Linked DNA regions of Homo sapiens: region 2 is linked to region 1. Evidence: fine-mapped expression QTL. A gene starts in region 1. The other region holds a variant in brackets. All regions are shown on one strand. Distances are from middle to middle.

Region 1 (2,901 bases):
CTTTGCCAACCTCTCCCACCTTCTCCCAGGAAGGCCCTAGCAAGAGCCAGACTCTTCTTTTTTTAAGAGACTTTAAATATTCCTGCGCCTAAATTAAACAATTTTTAAATCCCTGATTTTGGCTCTTATCCCCAAAGGGAATGTTGGAATGTACACCTTCTTTGCCCAAGAGTAGGGCCCCCTTTTCCTTCACCCCTAGCAGCCAGCTGGCGTGAGGACTGATGCTACACATAGTGAGAAACGGGCAGGGAGGAGAGGGAGAATGCAGCATAGTTCAAGCCCAACCATGAACCAAGCTTCTTTTGAGATAGAGATCTTCACCTGGCAACCGGGAGCCCCAGCAGAGCTCAGAGAGAAGAAAGTGGCATTCTGGAATCCATTTTGCTCAAGATGCTGAAGGCATGGTGTCAAACTCCCCTTTGCTACTGGGGCCAAAAAACTTGGGGAAGATCTTACCTACAGGGATGCGGTTAGTTGGGGAAAAGGCGAGGACCAATCCTGGTGCTCATGCTACCTAAGGAGAGCAGACAGGTGCGTGGCCTCCCTTGGGACCCACCCGCAGGAAAAAGCTGGGCTAGCGGTGGCTGCGGGGGCCCACCCCGGGCGCTGCTTCCGCATTTTGGACCCAGGTCCACTGGTGAGCAGTAGCAGCAGCAGCCATAGCCAGGCCAGCTGGGTCCCCTTCCAGTCATTTCTAGGTGAGATTTACGATGTATGCTAGCGAAGGGACAAGAGATGATTATGGCCTTTGAAAGGCATAATCCTGAAAGTCACACTTTTTCCAAAGCGCCTCCCTCCCGGGTTCTCCCCAGAGCAACACAGTCACAGCAGGAGAATCTGCACCGCGGGAGCGCCGCAGTGGTCCGCGGAGGGACCGGGCCGAAGAACGGGGACCGCGGCGCGGGGGGCGCGGCGCGGCTCACCTGCCAGGCTGTTGTAACAGTCGATCTCGATGGCTTCCACCGTCTTGCTCTGCTCCTCCGAGAGGCGGCCGGGCTTCAGGGCCCCAGCCGGGGAGGCCGGGCGCGAGTCCCGCTCCCGTTCCCCGGGGGGCGGCAGCAGCCCCTTCAGCTCCAGCAACGCCCGGTGGTATTTGCCTATGGCTTCACGGAATTTCTTGTCCTTGTAGCACTGCGCCCCTTGGCTTTTGAACTCGTGCGCTCGTCGGATGAGCTCGGCCGGCTCGGCCGCCGCCCCGACCTGGCCCCTCGCTGGGGCTCCTCCGCCGCCGCCCGGGACGCACAGCGGCGGCGGTGGCCGCTGCCCCTCTCCGGCCGCGGGCGGGCTCGGGTTCCCCTTGGCCCCGGCCGCCGAGCCCTTTCTCTCCATTCGGCCGCCGCCCCGGCGCCTGGTGCGCGCCGCGATCTGCCCGCCGCCGCCGCCGCCGCCGCGCCTTCCCGGGTTTAAAAGCCGCGGGCGCCGGCCCCGCGCCTCGCAGGCTTCGTGGCGGCCGTGACACCCCGCGGCGGTCTGGCGCCCCGCACTCCCATTCTCCCCGCTGCTGCCAGAGGCTGCTCCAGCCGCCGCCGCCGCCGCCTCGGACGCCGGCCCCTCCCCCGCCTCCCGGCTCCGCGCCGCCCGCTCCCGCCCTCCTCCCTCCGCAACCTGCGGGTGGCGGGGGCCGGTGCTCGCGGGCCCGGGACTAGCGCTGCGGGGGGACCGTGGCCCCGAGTGGGGTGGCGGGGATGGTCGCTGACCCGGAAGAAGCTTGGCTTGCCCGAAGGAGGGGAGGATTAATGACAAAGACGGCCCCGCTCTTTCCCATTCAATCCCGCTCTGCGAGGCGCGCCTAGTCTGAAAGGAGGTGGGGGGAGGGGGGTAGGTGTAGGGGAAGGGGAGTGTGTGTGTGTGCGTGTGTGTGTGTGTGTGTGCGTGCGTGTAGGGATGGGGGGCGGCGGCGACGAAATGCGTGCAGAAATAGATTTCTTAACTACAAGAAAAGGTGCGGCAGGGAACAAGGGGCGCAGGCGCAAGCCGTAGCTGCTAGTTCTTTGCAGTAAGGTGTTAGTATTTTTTAAGGGGGCAGGGCCTCCTTTTTGTGGATCCAGGTTGTCGCTGAGGTGTGTCTCGGTGTGTGTGGTCGCCGGGGCGTCCAGAACGCGACGGGCGGTACAGCGTGTGGGGCGCCGTATTCTGGGAGCCTGTGTATGCGTGTGCTGTGTGCGCGCAGCTGTGCAGGATGAATCACAGACATCAGAGATGGAGAACACCTGTTACTGTGGGTCATCGGCTTGGCGTGCGTCCGGTCTAGTTTCCATTTACAGGACAGTTCTGTGCCCTTCCTCAGGAGGTCCCATTCCTTCCTTCTTTTGGTCGGTTCTGAGTGTCAGCTGTCTACTGGGGATCTGCTAAGGCTAAGAGGCAAAGATAGGCAAGTCACTCCCCTGACCTCAAGAAACTCCCAGTCTACAGGCGAAGATACACCACCCACCGGTAGAGTCGCTGGACCAGGTACAGATGGTGCCTGTCATTGGGGAGGAACGAAAAGTGCTGTGCAGCCCTGAGGGGGGGAGGGAGAGGTAGCTTTTTGAGTAGTGGTAGATCAGGAGGCTTTATGGAGGAAATAGCATTTGAGGACCTTGAAGGCTGGGTAGGATTTGGCATGAAGAAGTAGAAGGAAGTGGCATAGCCGGAGTGAGGAAATCCAGCGGAAGTCCTGATGTTTGAAATCTCAGGTGTGTTTAGGGCATAGTGGTTTGATTTTATAGCCTAATGAGAAGTAGTGGGAAATGACGGGGTTGGATTATGGGGGCTTTTGGATGAAGAGTTTGGATTTGATTTTGGAGTCAATGGAGAAGCCTGACATATTTTTTAGTGCCCTCCCTTCCTTAATGTTAAGAAAAAGAAAGATTCTAGAGCACCGGTTGTCAGAGTGCTGGCCCCAGACCTGCAGTGTCAGCA
Region 2 (2,901 bases), 140 kb before region 1:
TTTGGATTGATTGCTGGTGGAATAACACCTGGACTATCAATGAGTGAAGCCTCCCGGCTATTTCCTTCGCCCACCTCACAAAGAGAATTTGGATTTTGCTGCTCCTGGAACTTTAGAGCTTTGTGATGGGAGGAAAGGGGAGGGGACAAAGAGTGAATCCTTCAGGAGCTCTTTTGGGAGGAATTTTGAGCAGGAAATGAGGGAGCTTCTTTCTATAAGGACAGTGGATGGAATTAAAAAGGGGTATTTGAGGAAGCGTTGCTGTGGATCATATGAAACCTTTGGATGCTCAAGAAAAATAAGAGTCAGACTAATTTGAATTTACTTTAGGATGCCGTCTTCCTTCCCACCTTACCGTTGTTTGGACACAGTACTGTCCTGGGCTTCTAACATGTGAGTCTGTGGCTTTATATGCTTGACTCTAGTTGCATGGACCATGAATCTGGCCAATTTTAGGTTTCTTACAAGCATTTTGATGCTTGATTTGATGTGTAGTATATTGGTGGAGAGACTGGGATAATGACCTTCCAGGAAGAGTAAAAGTGACCCCACTGAGGAAAAATAAGATATTCTAAGACTTTTCCTTACATGGGCATTCACTGAAGGCAGAGAACACGGCATTTGAGCGTTTTCCCAGCAGTTTCTGGGTATGCCTGTTATGCCCACCTTCCAGGTAGCAGGGAAGGAAGGAAAGGACTGGCTTTCACCTGGAAACTGAGGTGTAACATCTAGAGAATTTGTATAGTTTTGAATTTTCCCTACCATGGTGAGATCCTCAACTCTGTCTCATGGGGAACAGGATTTGTAGAGTAATATTCAGAGGTAGACTAGGAAGATGCTAGGAAGTCTCATCTTCCCCATGCAATGGACATGGAGGTGGGAGGAAGGAATTAGAAAAGCATCCATATCATAGACTGAAAGACAGTGAGTCAGAGCAAAGCTAGTCTTGGCCTGAGGAGGTACTTGAGGTTGGTTCCTCCCTGCTCTTACATGGAGAGGTTGAAAAGTGATTCATAGGAAACTTTAATTGGTGTTTCATAGCTTTCCAGGGCTATTAAGGACTTGTGGTTCACAATGGCAACTCCCAGTGTTTCGAGCCTTTGTGGTTGGGACTTCCTTGCCTGCAAGGTGATGGGATGAAGGTGGTATCTGTGGTGGCTTGTACCGCTTCCTCCTCTGCCCTCAAATCCTTTCTCCTCTGCAATGCCTGGGGTGAAGTGCAGGTCACAGAGCCTGGA[A/G]TGTTTTCTTTTTGTATAGATCATGATTCTCAACCGATGTGGGTAATTTTATTACCCAAATGTCCTCATAAGAAATTGACGTGCCTGCTATTGCATACATGCTGTAAGAAATACGGTCAATTTATTATATACATAACATAGAGGTCACTTCCACTGCATTCTTTCCATCCTTAGGAGTTGTGCTATGTAAACACATCCTAAACAACCAGAACAGTGTGATGTAGTAGGGGGCAGCGTGTCAAGATACATGAGATGGGGTCTGGAGAAGGCAGAATTCCCTGGGAGGCCTTGATGGAACAATTAGGCCTCAAAGAAGGGGTAGGATTCAAGAGTTGGTAATAGGGCAGGTAGGCCATAGCTATGACCTCCCAGGGAAGGCGGCCTGCCCCAGCTCAGACAGAGCCAAGTGTTCACTGATGCCATGTCCCATCACCTGGGTTCTTTAGGCAATTCCCAGACCTGGAATGTTGACTAGGAAAGCCATGCTCCCAAGAAGTTGAGTCTTCCATGTGAAACAGCTCCTCTTTCTAAGTGGCCAGAGAACCTGGGCTGGTACAGTTGTGGGCTGGTACAGTTGTGGGCTCTGAATCAGGCAGACCTGGCTTTGGGCAAAGTCCTCGACCCTGAGCCCATTTCCTCCTCTGTAAAATGGGGATAATTCTAGTATTTACTCATGGCATTATAATGAGGATTAAATGAAGTTATGTGTGTAAACCCTTAGCATAATGCCTGGCACAAAGTAAATGCTCAGTAAAAGGTAGTTTTTCCTTTTTAAAAAATTCAAGAGCAGCAGCAGATATGAGACTAGACTCACAGTGTATCACCTACTGTTTCCATTACTATTTCTTCAGAACAAACGACCCCAAACAAGAACATTTTATTAAGCTCATGGAGACTTGGGTCAGGAATTTGGAAAGAGCTCATTAGGGATGGCTTGTCAATGTCTGGGGCCTCACCTGGGAAGACTTGAAGGCTAGGGGAGGCTGCAGATGGAGGCAGGAACCATCTGAAGGTTGTTCACACACATGGCTCAGTGCCTGAGCTGGGAGAAGCTGGAGGCCAGGACTGCTGATGGGAGTGCCCATGTGCAGTCTGTCCATGAGCATGGCTCTCTTAGGGCTCTTGGCCTTACATAGTGGCTCAAGGCTGCAGACCCAAGTGTTCCAGTGAACATGGGGAAGCTGTAGCATCTTTTCTGATCTAGCTTAGAAGTCGGGCATTGTCATTTCTTCTGCATTCTGTTAAAGTGAGTCTCAAGACCACTCAGCTTCAAGTGGAGAGGACACAGACCCACCTCTCAGTGGGAAAAGTGTCAAGATCACACTGGGGAAAAGCACAGAGGATGGGAGATGATGGACCACTTTGAAAATGCAACCTTCCATGCCTGCTAAGGGAACTCTGCTAGCAGAGCTTGGGGATACAAGGCCCTGGAGAGCCTGTGCGGCGGCTGCACCCCATGGCCACCTGCCAAGAAAGAACTGCTTTCTGTTGACAAAACCATCGAGCATCTGATAGGCTTCCTCTTTTTTGGTTATTTTTATCTGGTATGTAGCTGGGTACTTCAGAGGTATGACGGAGATCTGGCAGCTCTTCTCAGTCAGTTTGAGCTGATACGATGAGAAAATTCAGGGGAGGCAGGTGTTTAAGGAGATGTTCTTTAGTA

Evidence for each region. PIP is the estimated chance that this variant, and not a neighbour inherited with it, causes the effect. A credible set is the group of variants that fine-mapping cannot tell apart.
Region 2: its variant is the best candidate, but not a certain one, in a credible set for the expression of TTC9 in whole blood (TOPMed, PIP 0.50).

The regions. Positions count from the first base shown.
Region 1 is chr14:70,640,558-70,643,458 of GRCh38, reverse strand. It overlaps TTC9 (tetratricopeptide repeat domain 9), which reads right to left and starts at 1,543. Exons shown (of 3, transcript NM_015351.2): 1 at 924-1,543. The coding sequence starts at 1,329. TTC9-DT (TTC9 divergent transcript) reads left to right here and starts at 2,161. Exons shown (of 3, transcript NR_110071.1): 1 at 2,161-2,451. RefSeq lists silencers at 989-1,058, 1,079-1,268, 1,489-1,638 and enhancers at 2,109-2,368, 2,469-2,648.
Region 2 is chr14:70,780,715-70,783,615 of GRCh38, reverse strand. All of the region lies in intron 2 of MAP3K9 (mitogen-activated protein kinase kinase kinase 9), which reads left to right. Among named protein-coding and RNA genes, the nearest start is that of MAP3K9-DT, 27 kb to the left of the region's middle. RefSeq lists an enhancer at 2,838-2,901. The variant A/G (reference allele first, on the strand shown) is at 1,239.